4 linked regions of the Homo sapiens genome follow. The protein of the gene in region 3 interacts with the protein of the main gene of each other region in a pairwise test. Each region holds a gene or a part of one and is shown on either strand. Other genes may lie near its edges.

Region 1 (7,204 bases), on a different chromosome or scaffold from region 3:
TACTAATTTACATTCCCACCAACAGTGTGTAAGGGTTCCCTTTACACTGCATCCATGCCAATATCTACTGTTTTTTGATTTTTAAATAATGGTCATTCTGGCTGAGGTAAAGTAGTATCTCATTGTGATTTTAAGTTGCACTTCTTTACTTTAGATGTGTGCAGCTTATTGTATGGCCTATGTCTCAATAATGCTATTTTAAAAAATCTTATTTTGGAAGAAAATCTTTACTCACACCTCAAAGTAACTAGAGAATTTTTAAGGTGAGTACCTATGAGTTTTGGGAAGTACAACTTGTATTTTTACCTGCTTCCAAAGCACTCTTCCCCAGAATGCCTGTCCTGTGTTATTAGACGGTTGAAAGTAAAATTAAAATCCTAAGATAATTTAGGTGCATCTGATGTTTAGTGGTTCCATGCAAGAATTCCTAAAGACTCTAAAGATATCCAGTTCTGAGATTCTCCTTAATCTACATGTGTGAAAAGTGTAAAAGCTCTGGTATAATTGTGCTGTATATGTCAAAAGGTAGTAGACTTTTATATAGCTTGTTAATAAATATCCTGAAACCATGGGAGTTGTAACACACTGTACAGTTTGTGCTGTGGTGGTGGTACAGAGTAGAGTTAGATGGAGAAACTGTAAATTTGAGACTCTGGGGGAAACTTTGAGTTCAGAAATTAGGACAATTCAGGCTTGTCACCAGGGAATCCATGTTTAGAAAGCAGGGTAAGGGACACATCTATTTTAGGAGTATTAGGGAGACAAAATAGGAAAGCAGTTGAGTTTGGAGTGGGAGTCGGTAGAGAAGTAGTGAAATGGGACAGTGGGATAGATCTTGTTCCTCAGTAACCAAGGGAAATGAGAGAACTTGTTCTTACCATGGACTCAAAAGTAAAAAAAAAAAAAACAAAAGATATGATCACAAAAGCTGTGGGGCAAACTCAATGATATAGGTACATTCTAAAATTCTGTTTCATGTATTAATCTGGGCACATGTAGCTGAGTGAGGCTGTGCATCTATAACCTGAATAACTACAGATAGGAGACCTTATTCAATCTTAGAAAATGTGGTTTACACAGCCCTGCAAATAGAGGAATATGAAAGTACCATATGCTTTCTATCAAGACTTATTCACAATGTGATACTTATTCCTGTCACAAATGCCAACCACATTGCTCTAGAATATTATTTAATTTTCAATGGCTTTTAAAATTCTTCTTATTAAAATAGAACATCTTATGGGTACCACTCTTCCCTTAACACATGGAAATTCTTATTGGCTTAAGAAGACCTTCAGTGAGGTAGGGCCTTTGTAGGCAGTTACATTTTATTGAGAGGATACAGTCCAACCATTTGAAGCTGCTATTCCTATATTCAAAAATCCAGGGGGGTTCCTACAGCTTTTTAATTTTTTATGCCTATATTTTTCCTGCAGTAGGTTTCCTACAGTTTCTACCACAAAATTCCCACATTGTGTAGCAATACAGTTTTAAGTGATGGACACAGAATAAGGACACAACAGAGGTAAGGGTGTGAGACAAAAGAGCCAGGGGAGAAATCCTGCCTCTGGGATCTTGCTCCAAAAGAGAAACCTCTTCTCCCCTAAAGGTTAGAAATATCACCCAGAGAGAACCTTCTCTCTGGGGGATTACTATGGAGAAGGCTTTTTACCAAATCAAGCATATTAAAGCCAAAATCGATTTTATCTCACAGATAATGATTTTCACAAATATCACTGTAAAGTTTCTAATGTTATAGCAGTACTTAGAACATTGTATTAACTGAATGTGTGTGTGTGTGTGTGTATTTTTTCATGCTCGTGGCGTGTATCAGTGATTTTCATCTTCTTTTTTGGTATGTGGTCATCTCAAGCTGCCCAACGAATGTTTTCACTTGACTTCTGTTGATACCTCCAACTTAACCTTTAAACAAAATGTCTACTGACTTTCCTAATTCCCTTTATTTGCTCCCTCCCTCACTCCCTTATCCTGCTTAGGCAGCCAGTCATTCCATTTTGTTAATCCTTCCTTTGTTATTTCTCTCACATTCATTTCTCTTTTCATTTTTATGGTAATCCTTTATTTAGGCCTTGATTATCTTGTGCTTATATCACACATACACAAATTGGTCTTCCTTTTCAGAATACAAATTGGTCTTCAAGGGTAGGTAGTGCAGAGACTGGATAGAGGAATGATTTTCCCACATACCAAATGAGGCCAAGCAAGGTAAGGTCAGACCAAGATAGGTGAGCTATGTTTGGGCAGAGTGGGGCAGAGGAGTTTGGGCTCTAATCCCCACCTCTTGGAAATTGGAGATGGGGGTGGAGATGCTTAGTTCCAGGCAGGATGAGGTGGGTCAGAGGAGCATATCAGGGATCCAGGGTGGAATTCCTGCTCCTTAGTATCTGCAGGTTAGAGTAGGGTCAGTCCCTCTAGATTCTGTGCCCTGCCCTTCTGGCTAAACACTTATCTTTCATTTATTTGTGGCTAGAGAGAGTACTAGAGAGACAGTAAAAGTTTGTTGAGGACAGATATTATACTTTTTCTTATAACTTACATGCGTGACATGGTATTTTATAGGTGATTTATAATGCTGCTATTAGAGATATTAATAGTCTTTATTTCAGAGTTAAATCTTTCAGGTCCTCTTTGAGACCCATCTGGCTCCCTTTGGAGATGATTATTTGTTAGATTATTAATGTTTCCTTGAGTCAAATTACATATTTTAGAGTTTATGGGACTTCCTCTGCTAAAAAAGGATACTATCTTCAGGAAGCAATGGATCCTAAAATTGACTTTGAAACACTCAACAATTTGCCAGCAACAATACTATATATCATCTTTTTAAAGTTTGTGTTTGACGGCATAATTTTTGACTTATTTCTCTCAGGATTCAAAAAAGAAAAATTTTGACTCATTTAGCCATGAAACAAAGGCCTTTACTTCTCAAGATCAAATCTAAGTTTTCCATGTTAACGTCCCTCATAATCTTGTCAAGCGCTATATTTTAAGGTATTTTAATTGACATAAATGTTCCCGAGACTTCTCACCAATACCAATTTGAACTTTAACACTGAAGGTGTTTAGCAGTCCTTGTATTTTCAAAATTAGAAGCCTTTGCAGGAGAAAATATTCAAATACAAAATTTCAACTTCTGCTTCAAACAACCTATTTTGTTACAAATAAGTGTTTCTGAAGAACCTCTTAATACTTTTCTGTTACCCCCCTTATCTGTTAGTCTGCTGAGACTAGATATTCAAATATTCCAAAAGCCAGAGTGTATGCAAGTTCACTTTCATCTCACTTGTCATAGGAATTTAAACATTAAGCCTCAAAGTATGGCACCCTATATGTCTTTTCAAAAACAACAACAAACAACCACATTGTGACTACTAGATGAGGTAAAATTTGTAATAACAGAATCAAAAAAGTCAACCCTAACTTTTCAGCGCTTGAACTCCCAATCACCCCCACTAAAGGCTTCTTCGTTAACCTTGAATCATAAGAATCACTGATCATCGAGTAAGTAAGTGTTCGGGAGATATGACTGTGAGATCCAGCTTTGTAAATAATTTCTGGATTTTTGGGGCGAGTCATTTCATCTCTCTGATTCTTAATCTCTTCACTTAAAAATGAGGGACTTGGAGTATCAGATGATTTCTAAATTTCTTCTTACTCAAAGTCTATTATTCTGATCCCAAAGAAGAAATCGAATCCTTCTCAATACATCCCAAATTGGATATTCTGGATAAGAAATTTTGAAACCAAGTCACACGAAGAGTATGTGAGGGATAAGAAGTCTAGTTTGGGGAAGGGTAAACATTATGTACGAAAAAGAAATGTCTTAAAAGAAAGCAGGCAGGGTGAGCGAGGAGGCTGAAGAGTCGCTCCATAAACTGAGGCAGAAGGAGCAGCCGACAGCAACGCCTACCGCACCCGGAAGGCTCAAGGAGGCGCCCTGGGCAGGGAACTTCCGGTTGCGGGGAAGGGCGGCGTCCTCTCCTAGGGACTTGTCGCACGCGGCTTCTCGTCGCGTTCCGTCTTGCACGCCTCGCAGCCTAGCTCCGCGCGAGTTCCAGGCGCTCAGCACCGGAGCAGCGCCCCGGCAACCATTGAGGCGTCACGGTTCGTCACGGGATTCGGAGCCGGGCGGCTACGGGCGGGGTGTCGCAGCTCTCTTCGACGTACCTGTCCTCAGGAGCCGCGGCGGCGACTGCGCCTCGGACGGCCGTCGGGGCCGAGAACCATGAGCCCCAGGGGCACGGGCTGCTCCGCCGGGCTGCTGATGACTGTCGGCTGGCTGCTTCTGGCGGGCCTCCAGTCCGCGCGCGGGACCAACGTCACCGCTGCCGTCCAGGATGCCGGCCTGGCCCACGAAGGCGAGGGCGAGGAGGAGACCGAAAACAACGACAGCGAGACCGCGGAGAACTACGCTCCGCCTGAAACCGAGGATGGTGAGGGCGGGAGCTCCCTTGCGGGGCACGCGGAGGCCCCTGTTGACGGAGCAAAGGCCTGCTCTTTGCCTGAGAACCATAATTATGTGTGTTAACGTCAGGAGAGCTCTCTCTCATACTTCAGCCCCGAGTTTGTCCCTTTCTTGCATCCTGTGGCCTTGAAGAAGAATGTGCTCATTCTCCCAGGCCACAGCAAGATACACAGATAAGCACGTATATAGAAATTGCTATAGAAACACTTCTAAATATTGCTTTGGACAAGGAAAAAGATTTTTTTTCAGGGTGGGAGGTAGCCTTCCAACAAGAGGAATCATTTTGACTCCTCTTGCAGTCACTTTCCCTTCTCATAGTAGATTTTTTTTTTCAAGTTCCAAGTTGCTTGATTTCCACATTTGCACTTGGGGTTGCAATGGAATTCAGAATCCCCCTTTACGACGATACACCCAGATAGACCAGTATGCCGACAAAACTGCCCAGAAGCCCCATGGCAGCTTCCTGCAGCTCCTAGCCTTGAGCACCTCTGCATTGTGGTGTTTGATTGGTATGTGCGGCCTCGGACAAAGGAATGGAGCAGTAGAAAACACCTGTCAAGGGATCCAGCTAGTGGCTTTGTTAGATGCTACATATTAACCAAGGAACAATGAGCCCCCCGCTTGGTACATACATTTGCTTTTTTTTCTGCTGGCTCATTAAGCAATAAAACTTGACAGGCTGTTGTACATGTCATATTGATTAGTAACTCACATTCTAGCAGGTAGAAGGTCAGCAGCAGGTTTGCTGCCTTCTCAAGAAAGATTATTCCTTTCCCTTCTAAATGACCCAGCTGCAATTCTTTTAATATTGTTTGCATTCTCATATCTCTTCAGTCTATACATATCGAGTGACTGCTGTGTCTACCAGCCTTTCTTTCATTTCCTGATAGTGATCCTCAGCACCAACAGAAAGAAATGAACTGTCTGAGGTTAACAGTGGGATCGAGGTTTGCACGGCCTTGTAACATTATACTACAGAGAGCTTAAAAAGATCCTTGACTTCGGAAATGTGAAAAAGAAAGATGACTAGGAAAGAAGAGAACACGTCCTAAAGCATAGTAGCTATTGCTTCATTCTCTTCTTTAAAGTAATTGAATTAACAATTTTAGTATTAAACTGGCCAAGAAATACTTCTAGCTATAAAATGCTAAATATTATTTAGGCTAAACTCAGGCAATAAAGTTATAATGTCTTACCTTCAAATTAAAATGTAGGTTAGTTACTTATTCTCTGAGTCACAGTTTCCTCATCTACGGACTTCAAGGAATCCATGTACTTTGTGGGATTTTAATACATACTATTTCATGCATAAGTGCTTTTTCTTGGGGAGCGAGAGAATCCAAAACTTTAAACAATCTGAGGTGTTATAGGTCTGAAAATTTCCAGAACCATTATTGAAATTTGCACTGTCCCCTTAACCCTCAGTGGATCAGTAGAAACAGTTATCCCCATTTACTATCCAGTGGACCTTTAATTTTTTTTTAGTCATTTAAAAATAATTTACAAATAAGAATAAAGGGATAGTGAAAACAACTGTGTTAGAAATTTCAAGAAGAATTTAAACATGGAAAAATTCAAATTTTTATTCCATATATCCTAGTTTTGAAGGTGTATGTACTCTAACTGGGCAAAGTACTTTGAATGCAACTAAGTGCTCAACTGTTAAGCATGAACCTGGAATGCATTCATCATGTTAATACTGATTCCAGATTTTGAGTGCATCGTTAATAAATTCTAGCTTATCATTAATCTTGGTTCTTTTTGCACTTGTATTGTCAAAAAAACCAACACTTTTGAAAACTACAAAGGCATATATTTTGTTGAAGAGAAAGCCATCTTCTTTTCTTCATAATTGGAAAATATTTTCATCTTTAGATTTATAAACACCAATTAGAATGATTGGTCCAATGAATTTTACTCATTTCTACATAATCTTTTCTTTCAGTCACCTTTATATACATATCTTTCATCACAATATGTTCATTTACAAACCTTGGCAAATAAATGTTGGTGCATAAACGTTATAAAAAGGGAAAGAATACCGTCCTCATCCTTTTAGCGAAACAGTATGGCACAAGTTATTGTCACAGTATATTTCAGGATTAAATCTTTCCTGTTGTCAGGCTAACTACATGATAATACCATATATTCTTTTCATCCCCAGAAATATAATGTTTACTCATCAATTCTTAAGTTAGAGAAAATTCATCTAGTATATTCATCCAAGATAATCATCATCTCTCATTGAGATTTTGCTTATACAATCAATTTCATCATCATCATTAGCATCCAAAGTGCTGTTATCTGTCTCTTTTCATCTTCTGATTCGTTCAATAATTGTGAAATGTTTTTCTCTGTCAGTTTTCTTCTCTTTGCCATTATGGGCAAAAAATGAAAAATTGTGAAATCTCAACTGTGTTCAATAAAAGCCAAAAATAGACTACAAGGAGGATACCTCTAGACTTCTTTTGTATCTTCTTGAAAGATGATGCAATATCTTGGGCAAAGCAATATGAAAACATGGGATGTTGTAAAATAGCTTGTGTTAGTGTAATTCTTTCACCATTACATTATTTTTCTAGGCAATTCCAATCATTCTTTCATTTTTAAATTTTAGTCATTTAAAAATGTAGTTGAAAATAATGAGCAATACCATCATTATGGATGATGAAATATCACAATGTTTCAAGATAAAGAAAAATCATTAAGATATTAGAT
Region 2 (7,027 bases), on a different chromosome or scaffold from region 3:
TCTGAAGGTGCATTTGTCAAGGTAGGAGGATAGAAGGAAAACTAGGTCGTGTGCAGTGGCTCACACCTGTAATTCCAGCATTTTGGAAGGTTGTGGCTGGCAGATCACTTGAGCCCAGGAGTTTGAGACCAGCCTGGGTAACATGGCAAAACCCCTGTCTCTACAGAAAATAAAAAAATTAGCCGGGTGTGGTGGTGCATGCCTGTGGTCTCAGCTACTCAGAGGATGAGGTAGGAGGATTGCTTGAGCCTGAGAGGTCGAGGCTGCAGTGAGCTGTGATCATCGTGCCCTGCATTCCAGCCTGCGTAACAGAGCGAGACCCTGTCTCAAAGAAAAAAGAAAAAGAAAAAGAAAGAAAAGAAAAACTAGGTTAGCAAAGGCACAAGGCACACTTGGACATTGACCACTTCACCCAGCCAGGTCCTCAGAACAGAGCCCACGCCCTGGTATTCAGTGAGTGTGGTCTAACAAGTGAGGCAGCCTGCTGGAGTCAGGCACTTGGCTATGAGTCACAGCCCTTCCATTCACTGGCTGTGTGACCTTAGGAAAGTCATTTCACCTCCCTGAGCCTTACTCACCTCATCTATAAAATGGGAGTGATGCCAATGGGATAAATAAGGCAACACAGGTGAAGTGCCTAACACAGTGTCTGGCCTGCAGCTAAAACTCAACAACTGGCAGTTGTTTGGATGACACGAAACATGCTGCCAGGGCTCAGGGCCTTGCCCAGTAAACACCCAGGCTTTTCTGGTGCTCATGACCCCAGAAATGTTGCTGGTATTCGTCCTGTTAAATTCTGTGCTGCTTTTCTCTTCTTTGGGTGGCCCCTGTGGAAGATGTGCTTGGTCATGACTTTTTAAACTTTATTATTTTTATTTTATTTTATTTTATTTATTTATTTATTTATTTATTTATTTATTTATTTATTTATTTATTTATTTGAGATGGAGTCTCACTCACCCAGTCTGGAGTGCAATGGCACGATCTCGGCTCATTGCAACCTCCGCCTCCTGGGTTCAAGCGATTCTCATGCCTCAGCCTCCCAAGTAGCTGGAAATACAGGCACGCGCCACCAGGCCCAGCTAATTTTTATATTTTGGGTAGAGACAGGGTTTCACCATGTTGGCCAGGCTGGTCTCAAACTCCTGACCTCAGGTGATCTACCTGCCTTGGCCTCCCAGAGTGCTAGGATTACAGGTGTAAGCCACTGAGCTCAACCTATTTTTGTTTATTTATTAACTTATTTATAGAGACAGGGTCTGGTTCTGTCCCTCAGGCTGGAGTGCAGTGGCACAATCATAGCTCACTGCAGTCTCCACCTCCCGGGCTCAAGCGATCACCCTGCCTCAGCCTCCTGAGTAGCTGGGATCATAGGCACATGCCATCACACCTGGCTAATTTTTATTTATTTATTTATTTTGTAGAAACAGGGCCTCACTATGTTGCCCAGGCCGGTCTCAAACTCCTGGCCTCAGGCAATCCTCCCACCTTGATCTCCGAAAGTGCTGGGATTACAGGTGTGAGCCACCACGCCCAGTCAAGAACTTTATTGACTAATAAGTCCCGTGAGTTTTAGATGTCATGACCATTTGGGAACCTGGGTGCATAGTACATTGGTTAACTTGGGAGACATCACCTTTTCTAAAACACTTACTGGCTTAATGTCATTGGAAAAGAAAATGCTATGGTCACCAATGGATGCGGTCTTCTTCCAGGCGGAGACAGCTGTCCTTTCTGTCTGAAGCTACTACTTCCAGGGTTATTACTGTTGCTGGTGGTGATAATCCTAATTCTGGCTTTTTGGGTACTGCCCAAATACAAAACAAGTAAGTTCTTTTAGTCGCTTTACCACCCGTTTTCCCGTGGGCTTGGGATACAGACAGCAGGACAGAGGGTGAGGAGAAAGAGAAAAGGGGATTGGAAATAGAATAGGGAGAAAATGAAAATAGGAGGAAAACATGAGAAAGGGGGGCGGGAATGGAATAGACTTCCTGAACGGTTCATGCAGAGGGTAATTCTTTCTCCAGGGAAAGCCTTTTCTGTTTGAGGGCAAGCAGAGCTGGCTTCACAGACGTACAGCCTGTGCTGTCACACAGGGCCCTGTGCCAAGAAGAACTCCACATTTGGTATTTGTTTATTTATTTATTTATTTATTTTTGAGACAGAGTTTTGCTCTTGTTCCCCAGGCTGGAGTGCAGTGGTACGATCTCGGCTCACTGCAGCTTCCGCCTCCTGGGTTCAAGCAATTCTCCTGCCTCAGCCTCCCAAGAAGCTGGGATTACAGGTTTCCGCCACCATACCCAGCTAATTTTTTGTATTTTTAGTAGAGACAGGGTTTCACCATGTTGGCCAGGCTGGTCCCGAACTCCCAGCCTCAGGTGATCCACCTGCCTCAGTTTCCCAAAGTGCTGGGATTACAGGTGTGAGCCACTGCTCCCGGCTGCATCTTGAAATTCTTCATAATTTTTTGTACGCTCTTTTAAAAATTGTTAATGGTGGTAAAATATACATAACACTAAATGGGCCACTTTAACCTGCTTAAATGCATAGTTCGGTGGCATTAAGCACGTTCCCATTGTCATGCACCCTTCTCCACCATCCATGTCCAGAACTTTTTCATCTTCCCAAACTGAAACTCTGTCCCCATTACACACTAGCTCCCCATCCCCTCTTCCCCCGGGCTCTGCCAACCACCATTCTGCTTTCTATCTCCATTAGTTTGACTCCTCTAGGCACCTCATGGAAGTGGAAGCATTTATCCTTTCATAACTGGCTTATTTCACTTCGATTAATGTCCTCAAGGTTCATCCATGTTGTCATATGTGTCAGAATTTCCTTCCTTGATAAGACTGAAGAATGTCCCATTGTACATAAATACGCCACACTTTGTTTATCCATTTATCCCCCATGGGTACCCGGGTTGCTTCCACCTTTTGTCTATTGTTTAATAATGCTAGGAACGTGGGTGTGAAATTATTAATGTTTTTAAACAAGAGGCCCTTTTCCTCGTATGACTGCTTGTGAAAGATGTACTCGGTCCTGACTTTAAGAACTTGTGTTCCTTTTTTTCTCTCTCTCTCTCTTCTTTTTTTATTCTATATTAAATGGAGACGGGGCCTCACTATGTTGCCCAGGCTGGTCTCGAACACTTGGGCTCAAACAATCCTCCCACCTCGGCCTCCCACAGTGTTGGGATTATAGGCGTGAGCCACTGTGCCGGGCCAAGAACTTGTGTTCTTAATTAAACACAAGTTTAAGGCCTGTGAACAGTGTTCATTTCGCACTGGGCGCTGCAAGTGGTGCGGCTGCTCCTGACTGCAAGTGCCTCAAGCGAGAGCTTTGCCTTGAGTGACTCTAGATCTGCCACATACGTAGGGGAGGTTCAGTGCATGAGGACAAACAAGCGTCATCCCATTAGCACAAAAGACACCTTCAAAAGGTTTACAATTGTTTGGGGCTGGAAGTATTGAAAATATTAGGTTGGTGCATAAGTAATTGCAATTTTTGCCATACTTTTATGGCAAAACCCACAATTACTTTTTTTTTTTTTTTGAAATGGAGTCTCGCTCTGTTGCCCAGGCTGGAGTGCAGTGGTGCAATCTCGGCTCACAGCAGCCTCTGTCTCCCTGGTTCAAGCGATTCTCCTGCCTCAGCCTCCTGAGTAGCTGGGATTACAGGCACCCACCACCATGTATTTTTAGTAAAGACAGGGTTTCACCATGTTGGTCAGGTTGGTCTTGAACTCCTGACCTCAGGTGATCTGCTCGCCTCAGCCTCCCAAAGTGCTGGGATTACAGATGTGAGCCATTACGCCCGGCCCACAGTTACTTTTGCACCAACCTAATATATACATATTTTTTATTTCTACATTTCTATGCTTTCTAGATTTTCAATGTAGAAGTATAATCTATTCTACTATAAGATTTTTTAAAAAACTTTATTAAACACACCAGACTCAAAAAAACAAAAACAGAAACAAAAAAGCATCATTTCTCTCTTCCCCACCTTAAGTGCTACATCCAGCAGAAAACTTGTCAATGTTATTAGAAGCCTCAGTTACAGCTTTTTTAAAAAAATGTTTTTTAGAGACGGGGTCTCACTGTGTTGCCTAGGCTGGTCTTGAACTCCTGGACTCAGGCGATCCTCCCACCTCAGCCTCCCAAAGTGCTGGGATTACAGGCATGAGCCACTGCACTCAGCCCAGTTACTGCTTTTCATTCCTCACGTCTTATGGCCACCACTGGTTAAGCCTTCAAAGTGGTTTTTTCATTTGGTACACGAGTGCAGAAGGATATGAAGATTTACACAAAAGACAGTTTGGGTCTCAGCACTGGCCCCCATCAGCAAGCTGAGGGCTGTTGGACAAGCCCCTCAGGCTGTTGCTTCTGAGCCTCAGTGTTCTGAGTTGTGGAATGGGCCATGGAGATATTGTCAGAACTGGCAAGAGAACCAATTGAGAACCATCTCCAGAGAGTCACAACTCAGAGAAGTCAGGGACTCAGTTGACATAAAACTTGAACACAGAGGTCACAAGTTATACATCTGATGCATCTTTAAGATTTTATTTTATTTCATTTCTTTTTTTTAGAGATGGGGCTTCACTGTGTTGCCCAGGCTGGAGTGCAGTGGTGCCACCATAGCTCACTGTAACCTCCCACCTTAGCCTCCCTAGTAGCTGGGAATACAGGTATGCACCACAACTCCTGGCTAATTTTTTTTTTTTTTTTTTTTTTTTGAGGCAGAGTCTCGCTCTGTTGCCCAGGCTGGAGTGCAGTGGCACAATCTCCGCTCACTGCAACCTCTGCCTCCCAGGTTCAAGCGTTTCTCCTGCCTCAGCATCCTGAGTAGCTGGGATTACAGGCGCCCACCACCACGCTAGGCTAATTTTTGTATTTTTAGTAGAGATGGGGTTTCACTATGTTGGCCAGGCTGGTCTTGAACTTCTGACCTCGTGATCCGCCCACCGCGGCCTCCCAAAGTGCTGGGGCTGGTGAGCCACCGCGCCTGACATTTTTTTTTTTTTTTTTTTTTTTGAGACAGGATCTCACTTCCATCACCCAAGGCTGGAGTGCGGTGGTGCAATCATGGCTCACTGCAGCCTTGACCTCCCAGGCCTCCTCCTGCCTCAGCTACCTGAGTAGTTGGGACCACAGGCGCGCACCACCATGCCTGGCTAATTTTTTTTTTTTTTGTAGGTTTCACCATGTTTCCCAGGCTAGTCTTGAACTCCTGGACTCAAACCATCCTCCTGCCTCAGCCTCCCAAAGTGCTGGGATTACAGTTTTTTGTTTTTTTTTTAATTACAAAATTCTTTTTAGAGACAAGGTCTCACTATGTTCCCCAGGGTGGTCTTGAATTCCTGGCTTCAAGTGATCCTCCCACCTCAGCTTCCCAAAGCACTGGGATTACAGGCGTGAGCCACTGCACCCTGGCCCACATCTCATATGTCTTAAAAACATGTTTCTCCTTCTTATAAAAAGTCCAGGTTCTTGCAAAAGTGGCATTAATATTTTTGATTACTGGCTGGAGCTACAATAGAATTCAGTGAGGCTGGCCGGGCACAGTGGCTCATGCCTGTAGTCCCAGCACTTTGATCACCTGAAGTCTGGAGTTTGAGACCAGCCTGGCTAACATGGTGAAGCCCCGCCTCTACTAAAAATACAAAAAATTAGCCAGGCATTGTGGCACATGCCTGTAATCCCAGCTATTCAGGAGGCTGAGGCAGGAGAATCGCTTGAAACCAGGATGCGGAGGTTGCGGTGAGCGGAGATTGCACCATGGCACTCCAGCCTGGGCAACAGAGCAAGACTCCGTCTCAAAAAAATACAAAAATTAGCTGGGCATGGTGGTGCACAACTGTAATCCCAGCTACTCGGGAGGCTGAGGCAGGAAAATCGCTTGAAACCAGGATGCGGAGGTTGCGGTGAGCCGAGATCACGATAGTGCCACTGCACTCCAGCCCAGGCGACAGAGCGAGACTCCATCTTAAAAAAAAAGAATTCAATAGGCCATTTACACTCTCTTGAAGATATTACAAAGCTTCCACAGACTATTCTCTTCAGCGAAGGAAAGAAAATAAGTCTGGCTAGTTCAGGCATAATCTGATAGGCAAAGCATGTTCCTCTGAAGGCCAGGAAAATAAATCAGAACAGCCCCTGGCTTGGAGGAGCGGTGTCTAGACTCCCTGTTGAGTCTATAGTTTTCCTTTGTTAGACAACAGTTTGGGCCATTGGAGCAAGTCACTCTCTGTTTCAGAACTTTGAGGGAATTCTGCTCCTTGGCCGAGGAGATGAGAAAAATGTGGCTGAATTGGTTTAATTTGATGATTCCTACCTATTTACGTAGGAAAAGCTATGAGAAATAATGTGCCCAGGGACCGTGGAGACACAGCCATGGAAGTTGGAATCTATGCAAATATCCTTGAAAAACAAGCAAGTAAGAGAACTTTGTTGCGTGTTTTGGGTGGTTTCAGGTTTTTGTCTTTTTATTTTGTTAAGGTTGTACAGACATACGGGAGTGGGGGGTGGAGCAAAAGGGATAGAGTTCAATGTCTATTGATGCCCAGTCCCACTTTCTAGGGGTAATAACCAGTTTTTTAAATCCTTCCACAGATATTCTGTGTGTATAATAAACAAATGGTAGTGATTGTAGCATATTGTAGGTATGACTTTCTACACCATGATTTTGTTTTTTTTTCATGTAACAACGTATCTTGGAGATTTTTCACATCTGTTCAGAATGATCCACACTGTGTTTCACAGTCTTTCACGGTCACCTCTCAAAGCAGGCATTGCATATTGCTTTGCAGTAAACAAGACCCAGCGCCTCGGCTGATGTATTAGTCCATTCTCATGCTACTATAAGGACATACCTGAGATGGGGTAGTTTATAAAGGAAAGAGGTTTAATTGACCCACAGTTCCGCAGGGCTTGGGAGGCCTCGGGAGACTTACAATCATGGTGGAAGGGGAAGCAAACACATCCTTCTTCCCAAGGCGGTAGGAGAGAGAAGAATGAGAGCCAAGGGA
Region 3 (7,027 bases):
TTGTCATCTGGGTGCCTGGACTCATGCTTCTGACTTTATGTTATAATCTCATGGTATAGTCCTATTTTGTCTGATAAAGCTGTTTTATTTACATGGAATAATTAAGTAAATCAAAACATCACAGCATTCATTAAAAACTTGGTGGTTGGGATGGCTGTCCACAGAAAACACTGGTGAAATCCAGGAGCTGCCACCACCTACACACTGTTGAAAAACACTGCAGTAGCCCTGTTTTGAAAAGAATTAGAACCTGGACTCATGTTTCTACCAAAGGAAATATGACACATTTCCCTTTCTTCTTCCCTTTTTATTTTTGTGACAGCCACACCTAAACCATGAGCACACTGATCTTCAATGTGTTCCACCAGAAATATTTTAGCCAGGACTGGTGGCCTCTGACAAGTAAACCTGCGCCCTTGTTCTATGCCCTGGCAAGCTCTGTTGCCCCGGCTTTATTCTGCTAACATTTTCTTCCCAGTTCTCCTCTCTCCATTCAGGCGACACACCCAACCATGTCTACCTGACTCTCCGTCAATTCCCGTTTCTCCCACTGAGCTATTGCTTCAGCATCATGACCAGAGCAGACACATTGACCCAGTTTGTGTCAGGCCCCAAGCCCTCTATATGTGAGTGAACTTCCTTCAGTCTCACAACAGCCCATGAGGAACGTGACAACTGATGCATTACAGATGAGGATGTGAGGCTCAGGCTGGCTATGTAACTTGCCCAAGGTCATATGACTAGTGAGTGACAGAACGACGACATGCTCCCAGGTCATCTGGCTCTAAAACCCATGCTCCTTACCACCACACTGTGCTACCTCTCAACAGGCAGCTGCATCCTGGAGTCATCACAACCAAACATAAATGAGACCAGCTTCCTAGAGTTCATCTCTGGGAATGAACCCTGGCACTATTTGTCTTCCTAGAATCTCACCACTGTCAGGCTGGTAGCCTGGGCTTAACTTCTCTGAGCCTCAGTTTTCTCTCTATCGTAGTAATAATTTAAATAATACTTACCAGGTCATGTTCTAAATGCCATGCACAAATTACTTCATTTAATTTCCATAACATCTACAAAATAAGTTATATAATTAAAGCCATTTTACAGATGAAAAATCTAGGCAGAAGGATGTTAAGTAACTAAGGTCACACAGCTGGTGAATGGAAGAGCAGAGTCTTGAACCCAGAAGCCATAGCTTCAAGGTCCATGCTCAGAACCAGTATTCCACACTGTCTTCACTACGTCAAATGGGAACAGTGATAATAACATCCACACAAGGGTGTTGTGAAGATTAAATGAGTTAATGCACGTAAAGGGCCAGGCCCCCAGTTAGAGGTAGATCCTCATGGTGATTAACAATGCAGCCTGACAGGCTCCATCATTCACTGGCTGTGTGAACTTGGGCAAGTTACTGACCCTTACTAGGCCTGTCTTCTTCTCTGGAAAATGAAGATGAAAACAGTAACTCTACCCTACATGGTTGTAAGAAATTAATAAGACAATACCTGTTAAGTGCTTAGCACAGGGCCTGGCATATAGTAAATTCTCAAGAGATTTTGAGGTCTGTTTTTAATTATTAATAAGTTCTCACTAAAGTTAGATTCCTTCTCAGACACCTTCCACTGATCAAAGAGTCTCATCAAAGCAAGTTCTTCCCTCCCTGGTCCCCTTTGGCTTTCTGAAATCATTAATTAAAAGAAAGGCCCTAGGAACCTAATGGCTTACCTGTTTTTTCTTTTAATATTCTACTCCGCAAAATTTGCAAAGTGTGTAATGTTTAACAGCAGCAAAATTAAAACATGTAAGTTCCATGCGGCAGTCCTCAAGGCCATGATAGCAACTGCTGCTGGTGGTGCCCGATGGGGAAGGGGCTGCCAAACTATGCATCTGACCAAGGACTAATATCCAGAATCTACAAGAACACAAACAACTCAACAAGAAAAAACAATCCCATTAAAAAGTGGGTAAAGGACATAAACAGACATTTTCCAAAGGAAGACATACAAGTGGCCAAGAAACATATGAAAAATGCTCAACATCACTAATCACCAGATAAATGCAAATTAAAACCACAATGAGATACTATCTTACACCAGTCAGAATGACCATTATTAAAAAGTCTAGGCAGGGCATGGTGGCTCATGCCTGTAATCTCAGCACCTTCAGAGGCCAAGGTGGGCAGATCACGAGATCAGGAGATCGAGACCATCCTGGCCAACATGGTGAAACCCTGTCTCTACTAAAAATACAAAAATTAGCTGGGCATGGTGTCACGCACCTGTAGTCCTAGCTACTCGGGAGGCTGAGGCAGAAGAATTGCTTGAACCTGGGAGGCAGAGGTTGCAGTGAGCTGAGATCATGCCACTGCACTCCAGCCTGGGCAACACAGCAAGACTCCATCTCCACAAAAAAAAAAAAAAAAAAAAGTCTAAAAACTCTAAAAACAGCAGATGTCGTCAAGGATGTGGAGAAAAGGGAATGCTTATACATTGTTGGTGGGAATGTAAATTAATACAACTTTTAGGGAAAACAGTATGGAGATTTCTCAAAGAACTGAAAAACCACGCAATCCAGCAACCTGGGGTATCATATTTATTGATTTGCATATGTTGAACCATCCTTGCATCCCTGCAATAAATCCCATCTGATCATAGTGTATTATCTTTTTGATGTGCCATTGGATTTGATTTACTAGTATTTTGTTGAGGATTTTTGCATCTACGTTCACAGGGATATTGGTCTGTGTTTTCATTTTCTGCTGTGTCCTTGTCTGGTTTTTAGTATCAGGGTGACCCTGGCCTCGGAGAATCAGTTAGGGAGAATTCCTTTCTCCTTGATTTTTTAATAGTTTCAGGATTATTGGTATTAGTTTTTCTTTGTATGTTTGGTAGAATTTGGCTGTGAATACATCTAGTCTTAAGCTTTCTTGGGAGTTTTTTATTATTGATTCAATCTCACTACTCATTATTGGTCTGTTTAGAAGTTCTATTTCTTCCTGGTTCAATCTTGGGGGATTTTGTGTTTCCAGGGATGTATCTATTTCCTCTAGTTTTTCTAGTTTGTGAGCATGCAGTTGTTCATAATAGTCCTTGATGATCTTTTGCATTTCTATGGTATCAGTTGTAATGTCTTTTTCATTTCTGATTGTGTTTATTTGGATCTTCTTTCTTCTTGGTTAATCTAGCTAGTGGTTTATCAATTTTGTCTATCTTTTCAAATAATCAGCTTTTACTTTCATTGATCCCAAGAACTAATATATGAACTTTTAGTTTCATTGATCCTTTGTAAATTTTTTGTCCCTGTTTCATTTAGTTCTGCTCTGATCTTTATTTTTTCTTTTCTGCTAACTTTGGATTTGGTTTGTTCCTTTTCTAATTCCTTGAGGTGCAATGTTAGGTTGTTAATTTGTGATCTTTCTACTTTTTTGATGTAGGCATTTAATGCTATAAACTTCCCTCTTAGCACTTCTTTTGCTGTAACCTGCAGGATTTAGTACAATGTGTTTTTGCATTCATTTCAAAGATGTTTTTAATTTGTCTTAATTTCTTCATTGACCCAGTAGTTGTTCAGGAGCATGCTGTTTAATTTCCATTATCTGTATAGTTTCCAAAGTTCCTCTTGGTATTGATTTCTAGTTTTATTCCACTGTGGTCTGAGAAGATACTTGATATAATTTCAATTTTTAAAAAGTTTGTTAAAACTTCTTTTGTGGCCTTACATGTGATCTATCTTGGAGAATGTTCCATGTGCTGACAAAAATAATGTATATTCTGTAGTTGTTGGGTAGAATGTTTTATAAGTCCATTTGGTCTAAAGTTCAATTTAAGTACAATGTTTCTTTGTTAATTTTCTGTCCCAATGATCTGTCTAGTGTTGTGAGTGGAGTGTTAAAAGTCCCCTACAGTTATTGTATTGCTGTCTACCTCTTTCTTTAGTGATATTTGTTTTGTTAATCTGGGTGCTTCAATGTTGGGTACATATATATTTAGGACTATTATATCGTCTTGCTGAATTTATCCCTACATCATTATACAATGACCTTATCTTTTTTCTTACTATTTTTAATTTAAAGTCATCTGTTTTATCAGATATAAGTATAGCTATGCCTGCTTGCTTTTGGTTTATAATTACATGGAATATCTTTTTCCACCCCTTTGTTTTCAGTCTATATGTCTTTATGGGTAAGGTTAGTTTCTTGTAAGCAGCATGGATCATGTTTTTTCATCCACTCTGCCAATCTGTATCTTTTAAGTGGAGCATTTAATCCATTTACATTCAAGGTTAATATGGATCTGTGAGACTTTGTTTCTGTTATATTGTTTATTGTTTTCAGGTTGTTTTATAGACTCTTTGTCTTTGCCTTTTTGACTTTGTGTTTTGATGAAACTCTGTCATGTTGCCATTTGATTCCTTTCTCTTCCTTTGTATGATTGTTTTATACAAACTATGAGTTTTATACTTCTGTATGTTTTTGTGATGGTGAATATCAACCTTTTGGCTGGGCATCGTGGCTCATGCCTTTAATCCCAGTGCTTTGGGATGCTAGGCAGGGGGATTAATTGATGCCAGGCAGGGGCATTAATTGATGGAAGGTGGTCAAGACCAACCGGGGCAAAATAGCAAGATCTTGTCTCTACAAAAAAATTAAAAATTAACCGGGCATGGTGGCACATGTCTGTATTTCTAGCTACTCAAAAGGCTGAGGCAGGAAGATTGCTTGAGCCCACGAGGTCAAGGCTGCAATGAACTGTGATTGCACTACTGTATTCCAGGTTGAGTGACAAAGCAAGACCCTCTATCAAAAATAATTAATTAAAAACACCATTCATTTCAGTGTTTAAGATCCTTTTGAGCATTTCCTGTAGTACCAGTCTAGTGGTGACAAATTCCCTCAGCATTTGCTTGTATGGGAAGGACTTTATTTCTCCTTTTATAAAGCTTATTCTGGCAGGATACAAAATTCTTGGCTGACAGACACACTGTTTTTTTTTTTCCCTTTAGCACTTTGAAAATGCCATCCCATTGTTTTCTGGCATGTAAGAATTCTGCTGAAAAGTCCTCAATTGGTCTGATGAGATTTGGGATTTCCTTTATAGGTGACTAGTCACTTTTGCTAATTTTAAAATTCTTTCTTTCACTTGACTTCAGACATTTTGAATATGCCATGGTGAGGTCCTTTTGCAATGTATTTTCCTGGGGATCACTGGGCCTCCTGTATCTGGATGTCTATTTCTTTAAATATGTTTTCTAAACTTTCTAATCTCTCTTCCCCCTCAGAAATACCAATAATTCATAAGTTCAGTTGCTTCTTGCAGTCCCAGACATCTCAAAGGCTTTATTCATTCTTTTTTATCCTTTTTTCCTCATTTTTGTCTGACTGGATTATTTCAAAAGTCCTGTCTTCGAGTTCTGAGATTCTTTCTTCTGCTTGGTGTAGTCTACTGTTGAAGTTTTTGAGCATATGGTGTATTTCCTTCAATGAATTTTTTAGTTCCAGAATTTCTGCTTGTTTTTATTTAAGATGTCTATCTCCTTGATAAATTTCTCATTTATATCCTGGATTAATTTTCTGATTTCTTTGTATTAGTTTTCAGATTTCTCTTGCACTTCATTGAGCTTCTTTAAAATCAATATTTTGAATTCTTTATCTAGCATTTTGAAGAATTCTCTTTGATTGGGATCTGCTGCTGCTGGACAGCTGTTGTGGTTCTTTGATGATTGTTACGGTTTGACTGTGTCCCCACCCAAATCTCAACTTGAATTGTAGCTCCCATAATTCCCACATGTTGTGAGAGGGGACGCCAGGGGAGGTAACTGAATCATGGGGGCTGGTCTTTCCCATGCTATTCTCGTGATAGTGAATAAGTCTCATGAGAACCGATGGGTTCATCAGGGTTTCTGCTTTTGCTTCCTCCTCATTTTCTCTTGCCACCACCATATAAGAAGTGTGTTTCACCTCCTGCCAGGATTCTGAGGCCTCCCTAGCCATGTGGAACTGTAAGTCCAATTAAACCTCTTTTTCTTCCCAGTCTCAGGTATGTCTTTATCAGCAGTGTGAAAATGGACTAATACAATGGTGTCATGTTTCTCTGCTTTTACATGTTTCCTGTATCCTTCCATTGATTTCTTTGCGTCTGGTGTAGCAGTTGCTTGTTCCAATTTTTTGAAATTGCTTTTATAAGGGAGAATTTTTTCCTGAGGATATATGCATGTTGTTAAGATGCTTTGACTTTGATTTTGGATGCCTGCAGTCGTGTGATCTTTCTATGACTTCTTCGGCATAGGGTCAGTGTTCTCTGTGATTTCCTCAGTGGGATAGAGTATGGTAATTAGCTGAGACTAAGTCCCCAGAAGTTTAGCTGGGACTTGGATGCCAACTGAGCAGCCTTTGGACCCCAGTGGTGGCAACAGTGGGGTAAGTGTGCCCTTTTTAGGCCCCACAGCAGCTTACGCTGCTCTGGTGGTTAGTGGGTCTTGGAGGGCTGATTCTTGGGCCTCCACATGGCTTGCTTAGAAGCTAGTAGTGGGAGTGGTGAGCCCAGTGTGTGGGCATGATCTCTAGCCCCTGAGCAGGTGGTGTCATGTGAGTGATGGCAGTAGCACTGTTGAAGCAGCCAACTGGGATCCAAGCAGTCCATGTTGGTGTTGCTGGAAGCTGTGATGGGTTGGGTGAGCTACTCCCCAGTCTCACAGCCACCTGTAGCAGGGTGGTGGGCACTGTTCTAAGTGTGCTTAGGAGAGCTTGGTCTTCCCTGTCCCTTTCCTACCAGGGTGGCAGCTGCAGCCACATTGCCTGATTGTTAATTCAGACTGGTTATGAATCAGCATTAAACTCTCAAAATGGTGCCAGCTGTGGGCTTGTGAACAGAGAAGGTGGGGCCCCTATCAGGTGAGCAGCATGGTCAAGAAGCTGTAGGGAGGGTGGTCTACTTGAGTCTCGGTCTCACAGCAACCCGTAGCAGGCACTGGGTATTGTCCTAGGTATGTGCGGGAGAGCATAGATTCCTTGTTTCTCCTTGACTGG
Region 4 (7,040 bases), on a different chromosome or scaffold from region 3:
GTGTGGAAATTCCTTTAAGAACTAAAAGTGAGAACTACCATTTGATCCAGCAATCCCACTACTGGGTATCTACCCAGAGGAAAGGAAATCATTCGAAAAGGATATTGCACACGCATGTTTATAGCAGCACAATTCGCAATTGCAAAAATATGGAACCAGCCCAATGCCCACTAATCAATGAGTGGATAAAGAAAATGTGGCATGTATACATCATGGAATACTACTCAGCCATAAAAAGCAATGAAATAACGGCATTTGCAGCAACCTGGATGGAGTTGGAGACCATTATTCTAAGTCAAGTAACTCGGGAATGGAAAACCAAACATGATTATGTTCTCACTTGAGTGGGAGCTAAGCTATGAGGACAGAAAGGCATTAAGAATGATACAATGAATTTTGGAGACTCAGAAGGGTGGGAGGAGGGAGAGGGATAAAAGACTACACATTGGGCATAGCGTATACTGCTCGTATGATGGGTGCACCAAAATCTCAGAAATCACCACTAAAGAATTAATCTACGTAACCAAAAACCACCTGTTCCCCCAAAATTTATTGAAATAAAAAAAACTGAAATAAGTAAATAAATAAATAAATACATAAAGTGAGGGAATTTGGCCAGGTGCGGTGGCTAATGCCTGTAGTCCCAGTACTTTGGGAGGCCAAGGTGGGTGGATTGCTTGAGCCCAGGAGTTCGAGACCAGTCTGGGCAACACGGTGTGGGGAGGATGCTTTTTTTTTTTTTTTGAGATGAAGTCTTCCACTGTCGCCCAGGCTGGAGTGCAGTGGTGCGATCTTGGTTCACTGCAATGGCAGGGTGCTTTTATGCTCTGTGGGGACTCACCACTAGCTCTTGGGAAGAGGCATGCTGTATGCATTGCTGCAGATTTAAGACAGGCCCCTGGGAAGACTGAATGCCATGGGAAAGCCGCAGAGCAACTATCTGATCTCATATCTACTAAAAATACAAAAATTAGCCAGGTGAGGCGGGGGGCAGTGGCTCACGCCTGTAATCCCAGTACTTTGGGAGGCTGAGGTGGGTGGATCACCTGAGGTCAGAAGTTCAAGACCAGCCTGGCCAACATGGTGAAACTCCGTCTCTACTAAAAATACAAAAATTAGCTGGGCATGGTGGTGCACACCTGTAGTCCCAGGTACTCGGGAGGCTGAGGCAGGAGAATCACTGGAACCCGGGAGGCAGAGGTTGCAGTGAGCCGCAATTTTGCCACTGCATTCCAGCCTGGGCAACAGAGTGAGACTCCAGCTCAAAAATAATAATAATTAGCCAGGGGTGGTAGTGCACACCTGTAGTCCTAGCTACTTGAGGGGGCTGAGGCAGGAGGATCTCCTGAGCCTTGGGAGGTCAAGGCTGCAGTGAGCCATGACTGTGCCACTGCACTCCAGCCTGGGAATTCCAGGGCGTGCTCTGTGAGCCACTCACTTTCCCCATGTGCCAATCCAGCTTTGGGACTGGGGCTTGCCCCATATTATCCCTTCACTGCCACCTTCAGGAAGGGTGGAAGAACCTTGCTCCTAGCTGATTTCCTCTAGCAGTAATTTACTACTGATGTCAACTAGCTGGGGCTCACCTGGCCTGAGAGCGAAGAGGCTACAACTTGCACAGACTCTGGAGGAATTGTCCCTGATGATGGAGAAAGTGTGAGCCTGGCTGGGGTGTAATGTCCTGGGGCAGGTGTCCCAGATACTTTATCTCCTTCACAAACGGCTGCACTGGCTCCTCTGGGTGCTGCTGGTGAGCGGCGACAGCTCAGAGGAGCGGGATGAACCCTGGCCTCCGCCTCCGAGTCTGGGGCCCCACCCCATTTCACTGGCAGCTCTGCCACTCATCAGTCAAGCGGTCTGAGGAATGCCATGTCTTCTCCCAGGACTGTGAAACAAGAGGGCTTGGAGGCCTCACATTCTCTGAGTATCTTAATTCCACAGTGGAAAATTTCTCTTGGTTAAAAATGTCATCCAAGAATATTAAAAATAAATTCCAATTTTCTGTGGAAAAAGGCTTGAGTTCTACCTTGTTCCTCCTCAGACCCCTTAACTCTGGTATTTTTACTCCCCGCAAAATAACCTTTTCAAAGGGCATCTGCAAACAGCTGCGTGGCCTTTCTGTGGGGAGGATGCTTTTATGCTCCGTGGGGACTCACCATTAGCACTTGACCTGGCTGTGCTCGCATGGGAAGAGACATGCTGCATGCATTGCTGCAGATTTAAGACAGGCGCCTGGGAAGACTGAATGCCATGGGCAAGCTGCAGAGCAACTTTCTGATCAAGGAACACTGGCTTGTTCCCGAGTTCCCAAGACTCCAAGCCTCCCGGAGACCTTTGGCCAAGGGTAGGGTCACAACTCACCAAGGCGGCTCTTTTTTTTTTTTTTTTCCAAGGGAAAAAGTCTTTCTATAATACCCAGGCTGGTCTGGAACTCTTAAGCTCAAGTGATCCTCCCACCTCAGCCTCCCAAGTGGCTGGGACTACAGGTGCACACCACTGCAGCTGTGCCTGGCTTTCTTCCTAACCTTTTATCATTAATGTGAATCAGAAAGAGACCTTCATGGGTTAACTTGGATACTTTGGCCAAGAACCAAGAAGAGAAAAGCTGACTTTTAAAAACATATAATGTGTATAAATTTATTCAGGTCTACATCTATCTGAGCTACTTTCCACCCTCTATTCCAGACACACCCTGTGATCTCAATAGAATGGTGGCAATGGGTTCTTACAAGGTTGAAAGGAACAGGAAGGGATGGAACCTCAAAGCCAGACGGCCCTTTATGAGAAAAGGGGAGGCAAGCAGTCTGGATTCTTGAAAGGAAAGGAACGCTGGGGATGATTCAATCCAGGAGTAGCAAACAGTTTCCATTTCTGGCGTCAACTCCAACTGATTGATTGGGAAGCAGTTTCTTGGGACGCTTGTGTTCAGAGGAACTCTGGGGCTGTTTCTGCACCCAGCTGGAAGCAGTGCTGCATTAGATTCCTAGGGTTGCTATCACAAATTACCATAAATGTGGCAGCTTAACATGACAGAAATTTATTCTCTCACAGTTCTGGAGACCAGAAGCCTGAAATCAAGGCTCTCGCAGAACCATGCCCTCTCCAAGGCTCTAGGGGAGAATGTTTCCTTGCCTTCCCAGCTGCTGATGGCTCCCGGTGTTCCTTGGCTGATGGCAGCATCCTTCCACTCTCTGCCTCTGTTTTCCCTTGGCTTCTTCCCCTTGAGTCTCTCTGTCTTTTCTCTTACAAAGACATTAGTCATTGGATTTAGGGCTCACCCTTAAATCCAGGAAGATTTCATCTTGAGATCCTTAACTAGTTATATCTACGAAGGCTCTATTTCTAAATCAGGTCACATCCTAAGGTTCTGGATGGATATGTATTTTGGGGGGGCATTATTCAACCCAGTGAGAGTGCCATGATGGTTTAGCAAGCTTGACAGGGGTTCAGGGCTGTGCAGGGATAGGGCTCAGGTCTTCTGCCTTCTGATCTGCCATCCTGATGTAGCCCAAGCCCACAGCTTTACAGATGATGGTGGAACTGAGACTCAGACAATAAAAATAAAAGGGTCTTGACCAGTACCATATAACTATGTAATGGCACATGAGTCAAGAATAAAGAAAGATGAAGATAAAGAGGTGGGGTAGGCAGTTGGGATGGGGAAGTGTAGGGGTGGGAGGGGATGAAGATGAATATTACTGCTTTGGTTGTGGAATAACTGAGAAAAGCATCTTTGCATTTAAAACCATTGGCCAAAGAGGATCTAGATGGGACAAGAAAATAATAATCAGCCAACTGGGGAGAAAATGTAGGAGTGTTAGAAGAATTAGTACTGCACTGGGGACCAGTTTTCAGGGGATCATCTGCCCTTTTTCAGCCAAAGGAATGAGAGCTCCTCTCACTGGGCAAAAGCCTTTCCAGGCTGGTCCCTGAAAGCATCGTGCGTACAGATGCCTGCTGGTTGCCATGGTGAATGATGCTGATCTGAAGAAATGAATAATGTGAGCATTAGGGGCGGCAGTGGGATTACTCAGTGTTGAGAGAAACAACACGGAAAGCCCAGAGCAGAGGAGGGAGAAGGCCCCATTCTCTCAGCTTTAATCTACTGCACCTCGGAGGGCAGAGCTCTAACCAGACACGCTGCAAGCATCAGGTAAGACATATAGATGGCTCTTCTTGGAAATGGAAATGGCTTCTTTTCACACTCTGCTTGGAGAAGGGCCGGGCAAATGAATAGTTAAAAATAGGGGAGAATTTAGAAACGGAAACAGAGGAAGAAAAATCAATAAGGGAGACGGACCTGGTCCTAAAAGGTGAGGATGCTATTTGCGTCTTGACAGAAAGCTCTTAAAAATGTCTGCTGAGGTAATTCCATCTGTACAGACAGCTAGTGGCAGATAGGAAGCCAAGAGAACATTTGTGCGTGACAAGAAACAGGATTCCTGATTACTCCTGATGGAAAGGTTTTACACAGGTGGCTGCCTATAATGAATTAAGCTCTTTTCATCGTGGTCGAAAGTGTATTTATAGTGATGTGTGGTGTGGGGAGGATGAGTGTGTAGAGGACACCAAGCTAGGAAACATAAACATTCGGTCTCCTTCATGATGACCTTCCCTGGAAGGGTCTGAGCACATCCGTCTCATCCCTTTCGTTCCCTATTTACTGGGAAGAAATATTCAGCCACATAGAAAGACACTATTCACCTTCCTGAGTATCTTAGTTCACTGTTACCCTTACAGAAGAAAAACAAGGATTAAGAAACTACTCAATGCTGTGCACCTTTCTGCAGCTCCACTCCTGGAGGAAAATGGGCACAAACACAAGAGGATGGGGGAAAGCAGAGGTGAGAGAAAGGCAGGTCATAATAGCCATTGGTTTGGCTTAATATCCAATGCAGGCGAAAATCCAGTTGACAGCTGTTTACTATGTCACTGCAACCCAAAATGAAACCTACGGGGTTTCATGTGAGGGAGGAGAGGCGGAAGACAAAGCAGGGTGAGACTGTTATGTGAATATGCGTAGGCTGACTATGACTGTCTCTGTATTTCTGATCAGGGGCAATCAGTAGAGGGAACTGCATGAGAGAAACTAAAATACTTGAAGATGGCTCTCTCTTATCAAAGCGGGGCCTGGCAATCTAAAGAGGGCTCATTTGATTTGTCTGGAAAAACAGCAACTGGGTCTCAGTCCTGGCACCTCATTTTGCGATAACGTCTGTAACTAAACCCGGCAGCCTTGCATTAGGAAATGTAGTGGTTAGGCGGCACTAAGTCCTTTTTCTACGTATTAGCGGTGTGACATCAGGTTGCTCATCCGTAAAATGGGAATCTAGCTCAGAGGATGTGATGAAGAATAAAGGAAATTAATTACTGCCTGTGAATCATCTAGCATGACAAGTGACATAGCAACCACTTACTGTGAGTGGTTATTACCATGATTAACATTCATAATAACAGCAGAATTAAATAGTGGTAGTTATGCTGATATTAGGGGCTGATTATCTTCACCCATAAAATAAATTTCCTGGTACCGCTGGCTTTGAAAAAACAAACAAACAAAACAAGAGCAGAAGCTTTGGGGTGAGATCAGCTGCCAAAGAGTGACGAAGCGAATTTCCACTCACCATGGGCAACAGAACCAGGAGGCTAAAAAAAGCAGTGGGCAGAATGTTCTAGATCACTGAGCTCACAGTACTTGGAGCAGAAACAGGAGGTCAAGAAGGAAAATTGAGGTGAATCAATTGCCTGAGGGGAGGTCACAGACCTGAGAATAAAGGTGGAGCCTCTGAGGTTCTACTGATTTCTCCTTACCTTTTCTTCTTTTTTCTTAAGGGGATGAGAACAATCCCCTTAAGAAAATCCCCTTTGTTATCTGAAGGATCTCAGCTAGGGTGGGATGTGGCTGGGATTGCATGGGTGCATCTGTTCTTAGGCCTGAACTTTGGCATGGGACAGCCCCAGTTTTAACTTTTGTCCTGCCACTTTTTCGCTATGCCTAAATAACAGAACCTCTCGGCCTCCATTTCTTTGTCTGTAAGATGAGGGCAACATGAGTGCCCGTCTCAAATGTGCAATAAATGGTGGCTATGATTATGATAAATACATACTTAAATCAGGGGATGTCACTCTTCACTTTGATTCTGGTTCCAGAATCGGGATGAACATCGAGGTGGGGAACATTTCTTATACAGGAGCCATCATCTCCTGGTCGTCCTCGGAGCCCTGCCTGGAGGACTATTACCATATTATGTACAGGCCCAACTGGAACAGCATCTTCTCTGGCTATCTTCGCTACAGCTTCCACCACGAGGAGAAGGTGCCTCGAACGATCAGCTCCGTGGTGCTGGAACATCTTGCCCCTTCCACTCTCTACTTCCTGTGCATCAGCTGTAAGAAGGCTGCCTTCCCTTACAGGCACTACTGCACCATGTTCCACACCCTGGATAAGAGTCCGCTGGCTCCTGGAAGCTCCCTGGTAGACCCCCAGATCTCCCTTTGGGTGCTGATGGCCATTCTGCTGGCCTGCTTCACAGCCGTCTTGGCCTTCATCTGCCTCCAGTTCTGGTGTGTCCGTTGCCATGAGCCGCGATGGTCTTACAGGGCTGGCCACATGGAGGAGGCCAATGGGTTGGTGAGATGGCCAGAGGAGGCCCCGGATCTTGGTCAGAGGGAGGAAGACCTGCAGGGGCTCCCCCTGGTGGAAATGCCACGCAAGAACTCCAGAGATGGAGCTGAACTGGATCCCGAAGCCAACCAGGATGCCCCTGATGCGGGTGCCTTACAGAGGGGGGGTGGTGACCCACCCGCTATACTGCCTCATTGTGGGGAATGAGAGTGGGGAGGAGAGCGCCCGCATCATGTAGCCTAAAGCTTTCCACACAGTAGGTCGTTTGTACAAATGTGTCTATAGACTACCCATTTCTCTCCCATCAAACGTCACTGCTATTGTAGGTCACCTGGGTTGGATGAATGCCCCATGACAAAGCTTCTCAAGCTGGAAAATGTATCCCCCAGGGTATGCCAAGGCACAAACGAGGCAT

The links.
Region 1: the proteins of TMEM140 (region 3) and SPACA1 interact in binary tests that used the Homo sapiens proteins (3 or more experiments, as listed by UniProt).
Region 2: the proteins of TMEM140 (region 3) and MILR1 interact in binary tests that used the Homo sapiens proteins (3 or more experiments, as listed by UniProt).
Region 4: the proteins of TMEM140 (region 3) and FNDC9 interact in binary tests that used the Homo sapiens proteins (3 or more experiments, as listed by UniProt).

The regions. Positions count from the first base shown.
Region 1 is NC_000006.12:88,043,660-88,050,863, forward strand, and holds the start of SPACA1 (sperm acrosome membrane-associated protein 1 precursor), read left to right. Parts: upstream 1-4,181; 5' UTR 4,182-4,246; coding exon 4,247-4,454; intron 4,455-7,204. UniProt on the Homo sapiens protein: Plays a role in acrosome formation and establishment of normal sperm morphology during spermatogenesis. Important for male fertility.
Region 2 is NC_000017.11:64,459,107-64,466,133, forward strand, and holds part of MILR1 (allergin-1 isoform Allergin-1L precursor), read left to right. Parts: intron 1-1,715; coding exon 1,716-1,826; intron 1,827-6,345; coding exon 6,346-6,435; intron 6,436-7,027. UniProt on the Homo sapiens protein: Immunoglobulin-like receptor which plays an inhibitory role in degranulation of mast cells. Negatively regulates IgE-mediated mast cell activation and suppresses the type I immediate hypersensitivity reaction.
Region 3 is NC_000007.14:135,151,048-135,158,074, forward strand, and holds part of TMEM140 (transmembrane protein 140), read left to right. Parts: intron 1-7,027.
Region 4 is NC_000005.10:157,342,654-157,349,693, reverse strand, and holds the start of FNDC9 (fibronectin type III domain-containing protein 9), read left to right. Parts: upstream 1-4,016; 5' UTR 4,017-4,153; intron 4,154-6,150; 5' UTR 6,151-6,157; coding exon 6,158-6,832; 3' UTR 6,833-7,040.